Linked DNA regions of Homo sapiens. The protein of the gene in region 3 purifies or fractionates together with the protein of the main gene of each other region. This does not show direct contact. Each region holds a gene or a part of one and is shown on either strand. Other genes may lie near its edges. The genes, in order: NKAP, GRHL1 and RSBN1L.

Region 1 (3,651 bases), on a different chromosome or scaffold from region 3:
AGCAACTGTTCTGTCTCCTCAGAGCAAAAACCTAACAAACTACAGTCTAAAGAGATGTTGTTCTGTTGCAGAGAATTCTGAAAATGAGTATTATTCAAATTCTACAATAGTTTAGAAAAGGAGTTTCCACATCATATAATCTTTTCCTCTGAAGATCATACTTGGAGTAATTTAAATATTATCTAGAAAATTATTTTGGCTGGGTGCAGTGGCTCACGCCTGTAATCCCAGCACTTTGGGAGGCCGAGGTGGGCGGATCATGAGGTCAGGAGTTCAAGACCAGCCTGACCAACATGGTGAAACCCCATCTCTACTAAAAATACAAAAATTAGCCAGGCATGGTGGCATGCACCTGTAATCCCAGCTACTCGGGAGGCTGAGGCAGGAGAATCACTTGAACCTGGGAGGCGGAGGTTATGGTGAGCCAAGATCGCACCACTGCACTCCAGCTTGAGTGACAGAGTAAGACTCTGTCTCAAAAAAAAAAAAAAAAAAAAGAAGAAAGAAAACTATTTTTAGGGTTCCTTCCAACTCTAATTCAATACATTCAGGTTCTTCAAGTGTTTTCTTTTTTTTTTCTTTTAAATAGTCTTGTTATTTGCCCAGGCTGGTCTTGAACTCCCGGGCTCAAGGAATCCACCTGCCTTGGCCTCCCAAAGTGCTGTGATTACAGGCGTGAGCCACCGCACCTGGCCTCTTCAAGCATTTTCTAAAGGTATCTGTAAGAACAAGTTTCAGATAATAATGCTTTATTATCCAATCACAAATTACAGGTTTACCTGTCAAGCACATTGTCTCAACTCAACCTAAAGTTGGCACAGAAACAGAGAGGGAAGAAGAAACTTATGAGTAGCATCAAAGAGAAAAGAAATAAGCAAAAAGAAAAAGCATTAAGTCTGCAGATAGTATTGGATATAGGAATATTAACAAAACCATACTGGTATATTCGTTTTAAAAAATCTCTTTGTAGGCTGGGCGCAGTGGCTCACGCCTGTAATCCCAGCACTTTGGGAGGCTGAGGCAAGCGGATCACGAGGTCAGGAGCTCGAGACCAGCCTGGCCAACATGGTGAAACCGCCGTCTCTACTAAAAATACAAAAATTAGCCGGGCATGGTGGCAGGCACCTGTAATCCCAGCTACTCGGGAGGCTGAGGCAGGAGAATCGCTTGAACCCAGGAGGCGGAGGTTGCAGTGAGCTGAGACCGCACCATTGCACTCCAGCCTGGGCGACAGAGCAAGACTCCATCTCAAAAAAAAAAATCTCTTTGTAATGTTAATATCTGGCATGCAATCTGCCACTGAGTTTAGTTGAGAAAAAATAATTCAAAATAATGTGTATTATTTAACAATGAACCCTTCTATTAATAGGAAAATTATATTCCAGGAATTATTTTAGATTATGCTAAAACCTACTAGCAACATGTTTTAATCTTTAGATATGTTCTATGTTTTTAAAACTTAAGGGGTAGAAGAACATAAATCACAAGAAAGAAAAATGTGAGATATATTTAAAGTTCTTCACTTAAACATTTTCACAATAGATTCAGGATTTAAACACATATTATAACATTTTAAAAATATATTTTTTAACCACTTACTCTGGTTCAGGATTCTTTGGAGAAAGTCCCCATACTTCAGGAGCTCCCAATTCTCCAATTCTCTCTCTCTCACTTAATCTCCTAGCAGATAAAGACATGTAAATTATAACTCAATGGCTGAGTTGTTTCCTAAATATATAATCAAATTCAATAGGAGTCTAGTTAAGCCTTTTTTCCCTTTATATTTTAAACATGGATAAAAACTTGGTTTAAATGTAAACTCATCACTTAAGGTCTGATGTTCTGATGATACTATCAAATGGTACAGACTATAGAAATGATGGCCTGGGAGACTGTCAAGTGCATCCATTCTGCTGAATGCATGACACAGCTCTTAACTGCTCATTTCATCATCTGTAATATGTGACAGAAACAGCTTCACATTTGTAAGTAACTTCATTTGTTTACAGATTTATGAAAGGTGAAGAGAAGTCTCTTTTGATATGGTCAAACCTTCAGTTTTCAGAAATCGAGGAATTAATGAAGAAAATAAAAATGATGCATTAGACGTAGAAAACAACTGAAGTTCTGAAAATGAAAGAAAAGTTTTTATTTTATTTTATTATTTATTTTTTTAGATGGAGTCTCGCTCTGTCGCCCAGGCTGGAGTGCAGTAGCACGATCTTGGCTCACTGCAACCTCCGCCTCCTGGGTTCAAGTAATTCTCCTGCCTCAGCCTCCTTAGTAGCCGGGATTACAGGCATGCGCCATCACGCCTGGCTAATTTTTGTATTCTTAGTAGAGATGGGGTTTCATCGTGTTGGCCAGGCTGGTCTCAAACTCCTGACCTCAGGAGATCCACCTCAGTTGCTGGGATTACAGGCGTGAGCCACTGCACCGGGCCCGAAATAAAAGTTTTTTATTTTTTTGTAGAGATGAGGTCTTGCCGCCAGGTGCGGTGGCACATGCCTGTAATCCCAGCACTTTGGGAGGCTGAGGCGGGCGGATTGCTTGAGATCAGGAGGTCAAGACCAGCCTGGCCAACATGGTGAAACCCCGTCTCTAGTAAAAATACAAAAATTAGCCAGGCGTGGTGGCGCATGCCTGTAATCCTGGCTACTAGGGAGGCTGAGGCAGGAGAATCGCTTAAACCCAGGAGGTGGAAGTTTCAGTGAGCCAAGATCGCACCACTGCACTCTAACCTGGGAGACAGAGCGAGACTCCGTCTCAAAAAAAAAAAAGAGGTCTTGCTTTGTTGTCCAGGCTGATCTTGAACTCCTGGCCTCGAGCAATCCTCTTGCCTCAGCCTCCCAAAGCGTTGGGATCACAGGCATGAGCCACTGCACCTAGTCAAAAAGTTTCATTTAACAAAAAATATACTTGGGGCTGGGCGTGGTGGCTCACGCCTGTAATCCCAACACTTTGGGAGGCCGAGGCAGGTGGATCACCTGAGGTCAGGAGTTCAAGATCAGCCTGGCCAACATGGTAAAACCCTGTCTCTACTAAAAAAAATACAAAAATTAGCTGGACACGGTGGCATGTGCCTGTAGTCCCAGCTATTCAGAAGGCTGAGGCTGGAGAATCTCTTGAACCCTGGAGGTGGAGGTTGCAGTGAGCCAAGGTCACGCCACTGCACATGACAGCCTGGGTGATAGAGTGAGACTCTTATCTCAAAATAAAAAACCAAAAAAAAAAAAAAAAAAACTATACTCAATGAGATACAAGGTTTGTTCCCTCTCTGTTTTCCTTTTAGTTCCTTTTTGGAAAAGGAGTGCATTTTGTATCTATTCTTTGAAGGACACTAAAATTTGTTTCTTCTTTTGTTTTATGCCTATGGTTTCTTCTGTTTTAATTTTTGTTATTCCTCATAAACTAAAAAACAAAACAAAACAAAGACTAAGGCTCATTCTCTCAAATTTTAGCTGCTTGTGACTCCATTTGTTTTTAAAAATCCTTCCAAAATAAATATAATTGCAATGAGTTTTTGTATAAATCGTTTTTGCCTCCTTAATCAGGGGAAAAGGTATTATAACTATGCAGAGTCAGACTGAGAGGGTTTCCCACCTGAAGTAACAGACAATTTAAAAGGTAACATATTTATAGCTGTACTTG
Region 2 (3,651 bases), on a different chromosome or scaffold from region 3:
GCCAAACATTTTGAGCATACATTTGAAAAGCAATCTATTCCTTTGGTCTTAGGTCCTTCCCATTGCCTCTGAAGAATTGGAGGGTGAAGGGTAAGATTTATGTTTTGTTTTGTTTTGTTTTAATAATGGAAATGATTTCAAACTTGTAGAAAAACTGCAAGTACAGTACAAAGAACTCATTTTTCCCTGAGCCATCAAGGATAAGTTGCCAGCCTGATGGCCCATCACTCCTGAATATCGTGGTATATATTTCCTACCAACAAGGACATCCTCCTGTGTCACAGTCAAGATTAGAATATTAACATTGCTTCATTAGCACCAATAATGTCCTTTATAGCAAAAAAGGATCCAGTTCAGGATCACACATTGTAGTTGTTTGTCATGTTTGTTGATCTTCTTCAGTCTAGAACTAAGCCACTCCTTAACTTTTCTGACCAAATATTTTTGAAGATTACAACCAGCTGTTTTGTAGACTCTTCTTAGTTTGCGTGTGTCTGCTGCTCTCTCATGGTTAGATTCCAGGCCTGGCAGGGATGTCATAGAGGCCAGGCTGGGTTCTCCGTGTGTCCTAGCAGATGGCGCTTGATGTCAGTTTATCTGTTACTAATGGTGTTCTTTGGTCACTTGATTAAGCTGGTATCTGCCAGCTTCTCCACTGCAAAGTGGCTCCTTTTATAGTAAGTGTTGTCTGGGGAGGTGCATTGTAGCTTTGTAAATATCTCATTCCCCATCAAACTTTCAGTTTACTCGTTCATTTATTGCTATCAGTATGAACTCATAGTTTCCTGTTTTATTCAATAAGCTGTGATTCATTAGTCATTTACTTTGATGCTCAGGTTGTCCCAGAATTGGGCTCTGCCTTCCTGTGCCGGGCAGCCCCCTACTCATGCTGCCTAGTGGAGGGGGGCTGACGCTACCCCTCTTTGGGCTATCAGAACCTTCTTGATGGCTCTGGGACTTTTTCAACAAGGCAAAGATTCTTTTTGTTTTTATTTCATTTTACTTTTAGAGACAGGGTCTTGCTCTGAGGCCCATGTAGGAGTGCAGGGGTGCAGTCACAGCTCACTGCAGCCTTGAGCTTCTGGGCTTAAGTGATCCTCCTGCCTCAGACTCCTGAGTAGGTGGGACTACAGGCACATGCCACCACACCCATCTAATTATTATTATTATTATTATTATTATTATTATTATTATTATTGTAGAGATCCTGGTCTCAGGCAATCCTCCCGCCTCAGCCTCCCTCTTTCTGTTATCTGCCCTCAGAAAGGTGCATCCTGATGGAGAGAGCCAAGATTTCCATGGGAAGTTCATTCCTCAGCATCCCTCTTCCCTCATCTTCCATCCATTCCCAGGGCTTAAACCGTCATACTGGGGACATTCATGCCCCACACGTTACCCATCGTGCCTCTCTTTGAAGGCGAGGCCTGCACTGCCCCTTTGATTCTTAGTGTTTCAGGCTTGAGTCCTGCCGGCACTTTCACTAGACGGCTGCTGTGTGTTAGGAACTGAGGTGGCAGAGTCTCGGAGGCTCAGCCCCTGCTCCTGAAGTGGCCATTCTGCTCCAAATCCAGCACTCCCTCCCTTCACTTTCAGTTATCTACCTCTTCTCTTGCTTGCCGTGACACCACCTGCTGGACCCTCCATGCCAGGTGCCCCTGGTAGCCAGGCGTTCGTTCGATCTGAGTTTTTCTCTCCTCAGACTCTCCTTGGTCTGTTCTCACCTTTTGGCTTCCATGATACCACCATATTTTAAACCTGTGGAATCCTGTGCTCGGATTATACCAGCCTCCTTCCCCTGGTTTTTCTGCTTGAAGGTCCTGGGGTCCCCTCCAGTCTTGACCACACACTTTGGGTACCAACACACTTTGGGTACCACACTCAGTCTCACAGACCTTTCAACTATTCCCTCTTCTCTGCCATGTAAAATTTAATTCCTTAGAGCTGAATGATCAGGACATTCACGGTAGAGTCGGCTTCCCGAAATTTCTAGATATGGCTTCCTGTGGGCCATTCTGTTTGAGCCAGGCTGGCCCTGCATTTTCCTGCTCACACTTCCTCAGTGTTTTGAAACATCATCTCCTTTGTCACTGCCTGTACAAGGTTATCTCAGATCCTGCCTCCTCCATAGAGTGTTTCCTGAAAAGAAGCACCAGACAGCCAGGCGTGGTGGATCATGCCTATAATTCCAGCACTTTGGGAGGCCAAGGTAGGAAGATCGCTTGAGCCCAGGAATTTGAGAACATCCTGGGCAACATAGGGAGAACCCATCTCTACAAAAATAAAAAAATTAGTTGGGTGTGGTGGTGTGCGCCACTTGGGAGGCTGAGGTGGAAGGATTGCTTGGGCCTGGGCGGTTGAGGCTGCAGTGAGCCGTGATCCATGATTGCACCACTGCACTCCAGCCTGAGCAACAGAATGAGACCCTGTCTCACAAAAAAAAAAAAAAACCAAAGCGCCTCATCTTCGAGAAGGCAGCTTTATCTGATGAGAGTGCAGATACCTGCAGGGAACCTGAGTGTGGTCCCATGTCTGCCTGTAAATATCCATGAGCCCTGGAGTCAGGATCTTCCTTTAGCCTGATTTTTCATCCACAAATAAGGAAGCTGGACCAGATAAAGAATGAAAGTCATTTTAAATCTAGTTCCATGACAGGCTCTAAAACACCTTAATGTTGATGCAGCTGGTTAAGTTGAATCACTAACGGCATATTTTGGATCACTGCAGCTCTGTCTTGAAAAGGGGGCCGTACGGCACAGAAGATGACTTTGCTGTCCCTCCTTCTACCAAGCTGGCCCGGATAGAAGAACCAAAGAGAGGTGTGTTCGTTTCCATTTCTTAGTGGGAGTTTTAAATCAGAAGTGAGTTCAGAATCTATCAAAAGCATAAATGGTTCAAGCACATTTTTCCCAGTTTCACTTGCTTGGGAATTCTTCCATCAGACTGACATCTAGCTTGAGCTAGGACTTAGAGCAAAGTTCAGAGAAGCTGAAACCTGTGTTCCTTAAGACAGAATTGATATTGGCTGATGCTTGTCATCCTTGATGTGAATGTGGTTTTTATTTTAGCTGGTACCGTGGTCTGTTTTCCTCTTTTGCTCATGTGAACTGTATCCTTTTTTTCCTCTCTTTTCCCTTCCTTATTCCTGGTTGGGGATTGATTAGTGCTGCTCTACGTTCGAAAGGAGTCAGAAGAAGTCTTTGATGCCCTGATGCTCAAAACCCCATCTTTGAAGGGCTTGATGGAAGCTGTAAGTAGGATCAACTCTGTAATCCCCTGTACAAAATGAAAGGACAAGTACATAGGATTTCATTGAAACACTTTATCAGATGATCCAAATCCTTTGTCAGACCTTCTGGAATCCCTGACACCTTTCTCGAGTCGTCGTGCGTCCCACATTTTATCCTCACCCAGGGGTCTTAACTCACACAGTCACTCAGTCACACCTGTTCCACTGAAGTGAATGCATCTGTGATGGCCTATGAAATGTTTAATTTTTATATACGTGGTTAAAGGGAGATTGCCATTTAGCAAGCCACTTAGAAGCTAACAAAAGTGATTTTTAATCAAGTACAATCTTAAAAACTTCATACATAAAAACAGTGGCTCCTCAGTCTACCTTTAAAACTCCCAATCCTAGGAAATTACTGAACT
Region 3 (3,651 bases):
GGGTTAAATGAAAGCATGTATAAGAAAGGGCCTAGCAGGGTATTTAGTAAATGTTATTTGAGTCTGAAGCATAGTTATTAATTTTTTAACCCTATAACTAATTGAAAGATGGGTGAATGCTGATAGAGGAAGGATCATTGACAGATATGAAAGTTAAGAATGCTGAACAAGAGAATTATGAAAGTATACTAATATGGCCCCATTTAGTACCAGGGCCTGATGCCTCACAATCTCTAAGGCCATCTAATCATAGTACTGTAGCTGACTTGCGTGATAGCTTGACTCACCAAGTAAAAGTTAAATTTCTTATAAGAAGGAAAAGTGCAAAACAGTTTAGATTTTTTTTTTTTTTTTGGAAACAGAGTCTCGCTCTTGTTGGCCAGGTTGGAGTGCAGTGGCGCGATCTCGGCTCGCTGCAACCTCCGCCTCCCGGGTTCAAGCAATTCTCCTGCCTCAGCCTCCCGAGTGGCTGGAATTATAGGCACTCGCCAACACGCCTGGCTAATTTTTGTATTTTTAGTAGAGAGGGGGTTTCACCATGTTGGCCAGGCTGGTCTCAAACTCCTGACCTTGTGATCTGCCTGCCTTGGCCTCCCAAAGTGCTGAGATTACAGGCGTGAGCCACCGTGCCTGGCCAACATTTTAGATTTTTAAAACCAGAAAATAACCTGATTTTAGTGCTTACGGAGGTAATTTACTGGAGAGTTAATCAATATTCCTGTAAGACTGAATAAATTGTAGAATTGGTAAGTGTGGAAAGTAAAAGTGGACATATACCAAGGGTATCCAAAATTTAGAATTATTTTATGGCAAACCACAACAAATATTTCATTAGCTGTCAGTGTGCCTTCACTGACTCCAGTAACCAGCAAAATTTGTATAGATCTTCTAACTTTTGTTAGTACTTTTGCTTTGTATTTGTTAACTTACTTTTTTCCTTAAAATGACCCTGTGAAGTATTTCAAGACAAAACCAGAGCATTTCACTGAATTTTTGCCTTGAAAGTGTAGTTGCAGGATTTAACTCTAATGAAAATAGCAGCTTTTCTTAGAATCAAATAATTTGAGGTATATAAATGTGAGTGATGTCAAAGGGATGGGTGTCTGAAGATTTTTCTAACTACACTCTCCTCCAGTATTGTTACTGTACAATTTTAGGTTAAATTCATATTCAGAGTTTTTATCATATGACTAAATATTTGTCTCTGCTGAGGGAATAATTTACTATGATTTTATTTTCTTGTGTAACCTTTTGTTTTTCATGTCTCATTTTTTTCATTTGCTTAGTTTTCTCTGGCAGAGTCTTTCTGTACCCTCCAGTAGCTCCATAAAATGCTTCTCAGTACAATTTTCCACATGGGCAAATCTGTCAGATAAACTTACCCATTCCATTTGTTCCTGTAGACATCCCTTCTGGGGCCGGGCGCGGTGGCTCACGCCTGTAATCCCAGCACTTCGGGAGGCTGAAGCTGGCGAATCGCCTGAGCTCAGGAGTTCAACACTAGCCTGGGCAACACGGTGAAACCCCATCTCTACTAAAAATACAAAAAATTAGCCGGGTGTGGCGGCACGCACCTATAGTCTCAGCTACCTGGGAGGCTGAGGCATCGCTTGAACCCAGGAGGCGGAGGTTACAGTAAGCTGAGATGGCGTCACTGTACTCCAGCCTGGGCGACAGAGCAAGACTCTGGCTCAAAAAAAAAAAAAAAAAAACAACAACAACAACAACAACAAAAAAAAACGACATCCCTTCTGTAGCTGTCCTTACTGCTTTAGCCTGGGTTGTTTCCTCTTTAGGCCTGCTGCATAGCTGTCACCTTGGGACTTTCCTTAGTTGACATTCTGGGAATTTCTTTAACTTTTGTTGAATTTTATTTTTCCGGATCTCATGCCTTCCTTTTGGTTTCTTCCTTCATTTTGGATTTTCATTTTGGATTTCATTTTTATCCTTTTACTTGACTGGCAGTTAAGAGATTTCTGCATTGGAAATAATTTTCCCTCAAAAGTTTGAAGGTGGTGTTCCCTTATTGCCTGGTTCCCAAAGTAGATGTTAAGACGTCTGATCTCCAAAAAGTTGTCTATTCTACTATCTGGGGAATGTCAATCCTTTCACTGAATTTTATAATTTATATATTTTTTTCTTTGGTGTTTTTCTTCACATCTCACTCTTCCTTCTGAACTTTCACTGAATTTTACTTTTTTTTTTTTTTTTGAGATGGAGTCTTGCTCTGTTGCCTAGGCTGGAGTGCAGTGGCATGATCTTGGCTCACTGCAGTCTCTGCCTCCTGGGTTCAAGCAATTCTCCTGCCTCAGCCTCCCAAGTAGCTGGTATTACAGGTGTGCGCCACCACGCCCAGCTAATTTTTTGTATTTTTAGTAGAGATGGGGTTCCTCCATGTTGGCCGGGATGGTCTGGAACTCCTGGCCTCAGATGGTCTGTCTGCCTTGGCCTCCCAAAGTGCTGGGGTTATAGGCGTGAGCCACCGTGGCTGGCCTTGACTGAATTTTAAAGTTTTAGCTTTTGTTTTTTTGAGACGGTCTTGTACTGTCGCCCAGGCTGGAGTGCAATGCAGTTTTGGCTCCCTGCAACCTCTGCCTCCCAGGTTCGCATGATTCTCCTGCCTCAGCCTCCTGAGTAGCTGGGACTACAGGCGCACACCACCACACCCAGCTAATTTTTTGTATTTTTGAGTAGAGATAGGGTTTCACTGTGTTGGCCAGGCTGGTCTCCAACTCCTGACCTCATGATCCACCCGCCTTGGCCTCCCAAAGTGCTGGTATTACAGGTGTGAGCCACTGCGCCTGGAAAAGTTTAAGCCTTTAATAAGAATTTTTAAGAGCTCCTGTCCTTTGTTTCAGTATTATAGTATTTTGTTCCTTTTTCATGGGTGCAACGTTTTCTGTTTCCTCTTCAAGGATATTAATTACAGCTTCTTTGAGGTGTTCTTCTGTTCTCCCTATTATTTTTGGTTTTTCTTACTTATTTCTGTTTGTTTTGGTTGCTTTCTTTTAGTTGGAGGTTTTGTTCAGATCTTTGTGATCATGAGCAAGGTTAATGACTAATGGACTGCTGTGTTTTTAATCTTCATTTCTTTTCTCTGGGTGGTGGGCAAGAAGGCTTTCAGTTTCTTCAGATAGATGTCCTTTAATTTTCCTGTCTCTTTGTGGGTGGAATGATGGAGAGAGGAGGGGTGTCTTAGTCACTCGGGCTGCTATAATAAAATACCATAGAATGGGTGACTTAACAGAAATTAATTTTTTTATAATTCTGGTGGCTGGAAGCGTGAGGTCAGCATGCCATCATGGCCAGGTTCTGGTAAGGGCTCTTTTCCTGGTCTGTAGGTGACTGCCTTCTTCCTGTGTGCTCACATGACTTTTCCTATAATGGAAAGAAAAATCTCTTCCTTTTCTCTTTATAAAGCTACCAATTTTATTGGATTGGGACTGTGCCCTTTGACCTCATTTAATCTTAGTTACCTCCGAAAAGCCTTATTTTCAGATACAGTCACATTGGGCATTAAGGCTTCAACATATGGATTTTGGGGAGGCATGATTCAGTCCATAGTGAAGGGCTTGGCAGAGGTAATGAGTTTGTATGACAGGGTTCTAGCGCTTCATGGGGGAAGAAAGCTACAAGTCTTGTCATTCATTT

What was found.
Region 1: the proteins of RSBN1L (region 3) and NKAP purify together in Homo sapiens (affinity purification with mass spectrometry; one large-scale study listed by BioGRID and IntAct). This does not show direct contact.
Region 2: the proteins of RSBN1L (region 3) and GRHL1 purify together in Homo sapiens (co-immunoprecipitation; one large-scale study listed by IntAct). This does not show direct contact.

What each region holds. Positions count from the first base shown.
Region 1 is NC_000023.11:119,937,131-119,940,781, forward strand, and holds part of NKAP (NF-kappa-B-activating protein), read right to left. Parts: intron 1,681-3,651; coding exon 1,600-1,680; intron 1-1,599. UniProt on the Homo sapiens protein: Acts as a transcriptional repressor. Plays a role as a transcriptional corepressor of the Notch-mediated signaling required for T-cell development. Also involved in the TNF and IL-1 induced NF-kappa-B activation.
Region 2 is NC_000002.12:9,993,155-9,996,805, forward strand, and holds part of GRHL1 (grainyhead-like protein 1 homolog), read left to right. Parts: exon of another isoform or gene 1-52; coding exon 53-90; exon of another isoform or gene 91-2,724; coding exon 2,725-2,816; exon of another isoform or gene 2,817-3,161; coding exon 3,162-3,247; exon of another isoform or gene 3,248-3,273; intron 3,274-3,651. UniProt on the Homo sapiens protein: Transcription factor involved in epithelial development. Binds directly to the consensus DNA sequence 5'-AACCGGTT-3'.
Region 3 is NC_000007.14:77,699,459-77,703,109, forward strand, and holds part of RSBN1L (lysine-specific demethylase RSBN1L), read left to right. Parts: intron 1-3,651. UniProt on the Homo sapiens protein: Lysine-specific demethylase that specifically demethylates methylated lysine residues of proteins.